3 separate regions of the Homo sapiens genome follow, and regions 1 and 3 are each linked to region 2. Evidence: fine-mapped expression QTL. A gene starts in region 2. Each other region holds a variant in brackets. All regions are shown on one strand. Distances are from middle to middle.

Region 1 (2,764 bases), 33 kb before region 2:
TCCTGTGTCAGCCTCCTGAGTAGCTGGGATTCCAGATGCTCACCACCATGCCTGGCTAATTTTTGTATTTTTAGTAGAGATGGAGTTTTACCATGTTGGCCAGACTGGTTTCGGACTCCTGATCTCAAGTGATCCGACCATCCTGGCCTCCCAAAGGGCTGGGATTACAGATTTTCCAGGCCAGATTTTCATTTATTTTTTCATCAAAATAATTATCATTGAGTGTCTACAATGGGCTAGGCACTGTGTTAAGAGCTTGGAATATATTAGTGAACAAAGCAAATACAGGTCTCTGCCTTCGTGAAGTCTATATATTTTAGTGATGAGGGGAGAGAGACAATAAGCAACTAAGATAATAAATTATAGGCTGGGTATGGTGGCTTATGCCTATAATCCCAGCACTTTGGGAGGCCAAGGTGGGTGGATCACCTGAGGTCAGGAGTTCAGACCAACCTGACCAACATGGTGAAACCCTGTGTCTACTAAAAACACAAAAATTAGCTGGGCGTGGTGGCGGGCACCTGTAATCCCAGCTACTCAGGAGGCTGAGGCAGGAGAATCGCTTGAACCCGGGTGGTGGAGGTTGCAGTAAGCTGAGATGGTGCCACTGCACTCCAGCCTAGGTGACAGAGTGAGACTCTGTCTCAAAATAAATAAAATAAAATAAATAAATAAATAAATAAATAAATAAATAAATAAATAAATAAATATAGTATGTTAGAAGGTGATAAGAGATAAAGAAAAAAGAACAAATATAGAACAAGAAAAGGGAGATTGGAAATGCTTATAGGGCATCACATTAGATGATTATCAGGGAAGGTCCAACAGAGAAGTTGATATTTAAGTAGACTTATAAGAAATGAGACAGTAGGGCTGGGCACGGTGGCACATGTCTGTAATCCCAGCACTTTGGGAGGCCGAGGCGGGTGGATCGTTTGAAGTCAAGAGTAGAAACCCCGTCTCTACTAAAAATACAAAAATTAGCTGGGCGGTAGTGGCACACTCCTGTAATCCCAGCTACTTGGGAGAATGAGGCAGGAGAATTGCTTGAGCCTGGGAGGTAGAGTTTGCGGTGAGTGGAGATTGCATCACTGCACTCCAGTCTGGGCGACAGAGTGAGACTCTGTCTTAAAAAAAAAGAAATGAGAGAATAAGGTTTGTGGAACATTCCAGGTAGAGTGAATAGCCAATGCAACAAGTCTAAAGTGGAAGGGAGGGTGCCTGGCTGGCTTGTTCAGGAACAGCAAGGATGCAGGTGTAGCTGGAAGAGAGAGAAGAAGAAGGGGCAGAACTAGATGAAGTCAAAGGGGGAGGGCTGG[G/A]AAATCATCTAAGACCATTATAAGAACTTTGGCTTTGACTCCCAATGAAATGAGTAGATAAGTGAATAATAATCTTTTGTTATTCAGATTTCAAAAGAATCAAACTTGACTGCTAGGGAGGGAAAGGTGGAAGCAGGGAGATCAGTTAGGAGACAGCCTCCCTTACAAGTTAGGGAGGACAATGACTCTGATGACTAGGGCAGTAGTAGAGATGGTGGAAACATGCAGATTCTGGATATATTCTGAACGTACAAACGACAGGACTGCCTGTTAAATTGGATATGGGGTATAACAGAAAAGGAGTCATAAGGATGACTTCATGTTTTTTGGCTTGAAAGAATGGAGGTGGAGAAAGCCATGAGTGGTAAAGCTTTTGGAAGGAGAATCAGAAATGTAGTACTGGACATATTCAGTCTGAGATGAATTTTGGACATCCAAGTGGTGGGGATGTCAAGTGGGCAATAGGGTATATGAGTCTGGGGTTCAGGAGAGATGTCTGAAGTCTGGGAGATATAAATTTGGGAGCTGTTGGCTGGACATGGTGGCTCATGCCTGTAATCCCAGCACTTTGGGAGGCCGAGGCGGGCAGATCATGAGGTCAGGAGATCGAGACCATCCTGGCTAACATGGTGAAAACCCATCTCTACTAAAAATACAAAAAATTAGCTGGGCATGGTGGCACATGCCTGCAGTCCCAGCTACTTGGGAGGCTGAGGCAGGAGAATCGCTTGAACCCGAGAGGTGGAGGTTGCAGTGAGCCTAGACTGCACCATTGCACTCTAGCCTGGGCAACAGAGCAAGACTCCATTTCAAAAAAAACAAAACAAAACTGGGAGCTGTTGGCTGGGCATGGTGGCGCACACCTGTAATCCCAGCACTTTGGGAGGCCGAGGCAGGCAGATCATGAGGTCAAGAGATCAAGGCCATCCTGGCCAACATGGTGAAACCCCGTGTCTACTAAAAATACAAAAATTAGCTGGGCGTGGTGGCATGCGACTGTAGTCTCAGCTACTTGGGAGGCTGAGGCAGGAGAATCACTCGAACCCATGAGGCAGTGGTTGCAGTGAGCTGAGATCATGCCACTGCACTCCAGCCTGGTGACAGAGTAAGACTCCGTCTCAAAAATAAATAAATAAATAAATAAAATAAAAATAAATAAATAAAATAAAATAAAAAAATAAATCTGGGAGCTGTCAACATATGGATGGTATTTAAAAGCATGCTGCTGGATGAGATCATCAAGGGACTGAGTCTGTAGACAGAAGAAAGAGTGGACGAGTGAACCCTGTCACACACTGTTAATAAAAGATCAGGAAGAAAAGGAAGAACTAGGAAAAGGAAACTAAGGATGCCTGATGAGGAAGGAGGAAAACCAGAAGAGTCTGGTGTCCTGGAAGCTAATTATTTCTTTATTTTATTTATTTATTTTTTTGAGATGGAGTCTC
Region 2 (2,764 bases):
TCTTAATGTTACAGAGCCAACTGTCTCAACTTCCTTCTCTCTAGTTTAGTGAGTCTCAATCTTTAGCATTAGAGTCACCTGTGGAGCTTTAAAACAGTAATGACACCTGGCACAACCCAGAATTTAATTGGTCTAGAGTGGGGCAACAGTATTGGTTTTATTTAACAAAAAGTTTCCCAGGTGATTCAAATGCACATACAAGGTTGCGTTCCACTAGTGATCTTGATCTTATAAATTAGCCTCCCTCACCCTCGAAGAGGCCACTTCTCGGTTTCATGGTACGCTTTTGAGTCTTCTACCTAAACAGAAAACATTCCTGAGGGCCATATTCTCGTTCCTCATTTCTCTAACTTTATAACGATGCTTCTTTAAAGGGAAGTCTACACTAGTACGGTTTCCATCAGGTTTATTTTACTTCTTTTTTCTCTTTCAGACCACCACTGTCACATGCTCTTGCGCCCGTTATTCTGCTTTTACCTCCTTTCGTATTTCTTTGACCAGGTACTGGATTACTAGTCTTTTAACACAGTCCTCTAAAAGTGACCCAAAAGTCACCCTGGAAAGGGCTTCCTCACGTTATCCTCCTACACAACCTGGGACCCCTCTTCTGTGCGCAGACAGCATCCCGTGCATTTTTCTCTATTGTCACTTTATTGTACTACCACTGCGGATTCTCTCACGGTCTCCTATACAAAAGCACTTCAAAAAGCTGACACCACTTAATTCGCCTCTGACATTCTGGAACCCAAGGCATGGAAACCACTCAGTGAAAAGTCTGAGAAATGAATGGAAACGGAGGTCGGGGCGGGGACAATGGAGGGGGCAGTGGGTGGAGAGAGCGTGCGTGTTTGAAAAGGGGCGGGGGCTATGACCGGCGGCGCTGAGAATCCAGGTCCAGAATCGGGAGGGAGCACGGATACGCCAGAATCTGAGTGGGTGGGAGAGCGATCCACTGCCGAGACAAACCGAAGTGGGGAGGAGGCTTCTTACCTGCCTCGGGCCTCACCACCCCAACCAGCCTTCAGGCACCTCTGTGTTGGCCGGAAAGCGACAGCTACGGTCGCAAACTCAGAGGTTTCGTCCCCAACCTTGCGACATCCCTTTCCAGTACAGGGAGAATCTAAAGCTGAGTTCCCTGCTCTGCCGTAAGGTGAAGAAGAAAAAATTTGGGCGGGGCCGCCTGGGGCGTAGGAAAGGGGGCGTGTCTGCGCAAGCGCACGCTGTACTCTCCAGTGGCGTCACGTGCGGGGGCGGGACAGGGCGGGGCCGACCCGTGCTGGCAGTAGGGGGCGTGGGAGGTAAGTGCGCGCGCGCCTGCTCGCCTGCAGCCGGGGAGTCGCGCGGGGCGGGGCCGCGTGCGCGGGGTCGGGGGCGCGCGACCGAAGCGGATAAGGGACGCGGCGGCGGTTGGCTGTGTCTGTTGAGAGAGTACAGGACAGCCCGGACTGCGAGAGGCGGCGGCGGAGGCAGTAGTTGCACCGGCAGAGGCGGCCGCTGGCAGCGGTTGAGGCGGCGGTCCAACGCGTGCTCTCTGGGCGGGGTGCGGCGGGGGATGTGCCTGCTCAGGCCGGGCGGAGTCTCTCTGACAGGGCGGGGGATGCGCCGCGGCCGCTCGCCCGGACCCTGAGGCTGCTGGGCCCACCCTCCCGGAACCGTCCGACCCTCGGTGGCCTCGGCCTCTTCTGCCATCTCCGGTCCTACCCTGGGGCGGAGGGTGGAAGGCAGCTTCCGTCGAAGAGGAGGGGGCTGCGGTGGCCACCGCGGCGGAGCCCGAGGTAAGACCCGCCCAAGCGCCCAGCGGCCCTGCAGCCCGTCCTGGCCCACGTCTCAGCCTCGCTATTTGGCTCCGGTCGGGCCGCCCCGCCCCGTCCCAGCGGAGACGCCCCGCGAGCGGGTCTGCGCCGAGCCTCCCAAACACCAGATCACGGCCCCGGATCCCCAGTAGACCCCACCCCCTGTATCTTCCATTGGCCGGGCACCATTCCGGCCCTCCAGCCTCCCCGGAGATTCTGTCACGGTCCCCCCAACCCAGCAGACCCCATTAGTACCCCTCAGAGTCCCTTAGGACTCTTAATGGAGCTTCTAGACTACGTTACATCCTCCCTTGGGCTGACGTGATTACAGTTCTCAGGCAAAGTCTCGACCGCCCCCTAACCCATTGCGTCCCCCATGTGCCCCTCGCCCTACTCTTCTTAGTAGAACCCCTCCCAGCTCGCTCATCACCAAGCCGACTAGCACTAACCCTAGCCATCACGGCTTTCAGATAGCCGCTGTCATGGTGTTCTTACTCCCGGTAGATGTGGTGTCAGTCCCTCTAGACACCGTCACAGACTTTGGCTTCTCTCCCACCACCGACTGTAGCCTCTCTCAACAGACCTCTCCTCAAGCAAACCTTGTTATCTTTCTCCTTAGTCGCGATCCTTTCTTTGGTTGAAAGGGCTTTGCCATGAAATCCTGAGGGAATATTTGCTTAGCCTAATGTATTCCCTCCATTGTGGCTTAAGGGGACCGACCGAGACCCATGTTTGGAGGGGTTGGGCTGAAAAAAGTGGGAGGCAGAGTGAAGTTATGGAAGCATGAGGCCAGTTGTGTGTGTGCCATTATAAGGTCACAGAGCCTGCACCTCGTCTTGTCTGTTCTGTGTAGAACGTGTGAGGTTGTCCAGCACTGATGTTTTAGGGACCTCTGTAAGGATTAAATCACGTTGCACTAGTGGATATAACTATGTCGTCTTGTAGTATTACTTCACCTCCTTGTCGATTGC
Region 3 (2,764 bases), 21 kb after region 2:
ATACATTTGTTATGCCCACTCATCTTTTTTATACTGATTTCTAGTTAATTGTTTTCAGAGGAAATGATCTTATAGTTTCAGTGGTCTTTCTTTTTCTGTTTCTTCTTTTTTTTAAAAAAATTTTTATTTTATTTATTTATTTTTGAGATGGAGTCTCGCTCTGTCACCAGGCTGGAGTGAAGTGGTGTGATCTCGGCTCACCGCAACCTCTGTCTCCTGGGTTCAAGCGATTCTCCTGCCTCAGCCTCCTGAGTAGCTGAGACTACAGGCGCACGCCACCATGCCCAGCTCATTTTTGTATTTTTAGTAGAGACATGGGGTTACACCATGTTGGCCAGGATGGTCTTGATCTCTTGACCTCATGATCCGCCCACCTTGGCCTCCCAGTTTTTAAATATTTTTGTTTCACCATCTCAGTCTTTCTTTTTCTGGATCTCCAGTTTATATACAGGCATACTTCTGATATATTTAAGTTCAGTTTCAGACCACTGCAATAAAGCAAATATTGTAATAAAGTGAATATTGCAGTAGAGCAAGTCACATGAAACTTTTGTTTTCCCATTGCGTATAAGACTTATGTTTATACTGTACTATAGTCTATTTAAAGTGTATAATAGCACCATGTCTACAAAAATATCCACACATTGATTAGAAAATATTAAAAAAATGCTAACGGTCATCGGTCATCTGAGCCTTCATTGAATTGTAATCTTTTTGCTGGTGGAGGTTCTTTACTTCATGGTGGTGGCTGCAGACTAATCAGGATAGTGGATGCTGAAAGTTGGAGTGGATGTGGCAATTTCTTGAAATAAGACAATGACGTATGCTGCATCAGTGGACTGTTCCTTTAATGAAAGATTTGTCTGTAGCATGCAGTGCCATTTGATAGCATTTTATGCACAATATAACTTTTTTCAAAATTGGAGTCAGTCTTCTCAAACCCTGCAGCTGCTTTATCAACTATGTTGATGTAATATTATACATACTTCGTTGTCATTTCAACAGTGTT[C/G]TCAGCATCTTCTCAAGGAGTAGATTCTATCTCAAGAAACCACTTTCTTTGGTCATCAGTAAGAAGCAGCTTATCATCTGTTCATGTTTTATTGTGAGATTGCTGCAGTTCAGTCATATCTTTAGGCTCCATTTTAAATTCTAATTATCTTTGTTTCCACCACATCTGCAATTCCTTCTTCCACTGAAGTCTTGAAGCCATCAAAGTCATCCATGAGGCTTGGGAACAACCTCTTCCAAACTCCTGTTAATGTTATGTTGACCTCTTCCCACGAGTCATGAATGTTCTTAATGGCACCCAGAAAGGTGAATTCTTTACAGAAGGTTTTACGTTTACCTTGCCCAGATCCATAAGGGGAATCACTGTCTATGGCAGCTAAAGCCTCATGAAATATTTTAAATAATAAGACTTGAAAGTTAAAATTACTCCTTGATCCATGGGCTGCAGAGTGGATGTTGTGTTAGCAGGTGGGAAAACATTAATCTCCTTGTACATCTTTAACAGAGCCCTTGGGTAACTAGGTGCATTGTCAATAAGCAGTAGTATTTTGAAGGAATCTTATTTTTCTGAGCAGTAGGTCTCAACGGTGGGCTTAAAACATTCAGTAAACCTTACTGTCAACAGATGTGTTGTCATTCAGGCTTTGTTTTTCCATTTAGAGAGCAAAGGCAAAGTAGATTTAGTGTAATTTTGTTGTTGTTGTTCCCTGAGACAGGATCTCACTGTTGCCCAGGCCGGAGTGCGGTGGTGTGATCTCAACTAACTACAGCCTCTGCCTCCTGGGTTCAGGTGATTCTCCCACCTCAACCTCCTGAGTATCTGGGACTACAGGCCTGCACCACCATGCCCAGCTAATTTTTTTTTTTCTTTTTTTTTTTTTTTTGAGACAGTCTCGCTCTGTCACTCAGGCTGGAGAGTATAGTGGCGTGATCTTGGCTCACTGCAACCTCTGCCTCCTGGGTTCAAATGATTCTCCTGCCTTAGCCTCTCAAGTAGCTGGGATTACAGGCTCCCACCACCATGCCCAGCTAATATTTTTAGTAGAGATGGGGTTTTTCCAAGTTGGCCAGGTTGGTCTCAAACTCTTGACCTCAGGTGATCTACCCACCTTAATTTTTGTATTTTTTATAAAGACGAGGTTTCACCATGTTGGCCAGGCTGGTCTTGAACTCCTGACCTCAGATGATCCGCTTGCCTCAGCCTCCCAAAGTGCTGGGATTACAGGCGTGAGCCACCACATCTGGCCTTGATTTAGCGTTAATTCTCAAGAGCCCTAGGATTTTCAGAATGGTCAATGAGCATTGGTTTCAGCTTAGTCATTAGCTGCCTTAGCCCCTAGCAGGAGAGGCAGCCTGTTCTTTGAGGCTTTGAAGCCAGGCATTCACTTCTAATTATGAAAGTCCTAGATGACATATTTTTCCAACACAAGGCCGTTTTGTCACATTAAAAATCTGTTGTTTAGTGTAGCCACCTTCATCAATTATCTTAGCTGGATCTTCTGGATAACTTGCTCCAGCTACTATGCCACCACTTGCTGCTTTACCTTGCACTTTTATGTTGTGGAGGCGGCTTCTTTCCTTAAATCTCATGCATCAACACTGCTAGTGTCCAACTTTTCTTCTATAACTTTCTCACCTCTCTCAGCCTTCATAGAAGTGAAGAGAGGTAGAGACTTGCTCCAGATTAGGCTTTGGCATAAGGGAATGTTGTGGCTAATTTGATCTTCTTTCCAGACCACTAAAACTTTCTCCATAT

Direction of the effects. Positions count from the first base shown, and alleles are read on the strand shown. Sizes are in standard deviations (SD) of each study's normalised expression. Not every link is listed here.
With allele C in place of G in region 3, the expression in fibroblasts of the gene that starts at base 1,305 in region 2 is higher (small effect, 0.26 SD a copy in GTEx).

The links. PIP is the estimated chance that this variant, and not a neighbour inherited with it, causes the effect.
Region 1: its variant is the best candidate, but not a certain one, in a credible set for the expression of MYO9A in whole blood (INTERVAL, PIP 0.86).
Region 3: its variant is the best candidate, but not a certain one, in a credible set for the expression of MYO9A in fibroblasts (GTEx, PIP 0.51).

The regions. Positions count from the first base shown.
Region 1 is chr15:72,149,865-72,152,628 of GRCh38, reverse strand. No RefSeq gene overlaps it. Among named protein-coding and RNA genes, the nearest start is that of SENP8, 33 kb to the right of the region's middle. The variant G/A (reference allele first, on the strand shown) is at 1,320.
Region 2 is chr15:72,116,691-72,119,454 of GRCh38, reverse strand. MYO9A (myosin IXA) reads left to right here and starts at 1,305. Exons shown (of 42, transcript NM_006901.4): 1 at 1,305-1,775. It overlaps SENP8 (SUMO peptidase family member, NEDD8 specific), which reads right to left and starts at 1,052. Exons shown (of 2, transcript NM_145204.4): 1 at 991-1,052. RefSeq lists a silencer at 1,184-1,953 and an enhancer at 2,154-2,363.
Region 3 is chr15:72,095,289-72,098,052 of GRCh38, reverse strand. The region is part of intron 1 of MYO9A (myosin IXA); the gene reads left to right. Among named protein-coding and RNA genes, the nearest start is that of MYO9A, 21 kb to the left of the region's middle. The variant C/G (reference allele first, on the strand shown) is at 1,010.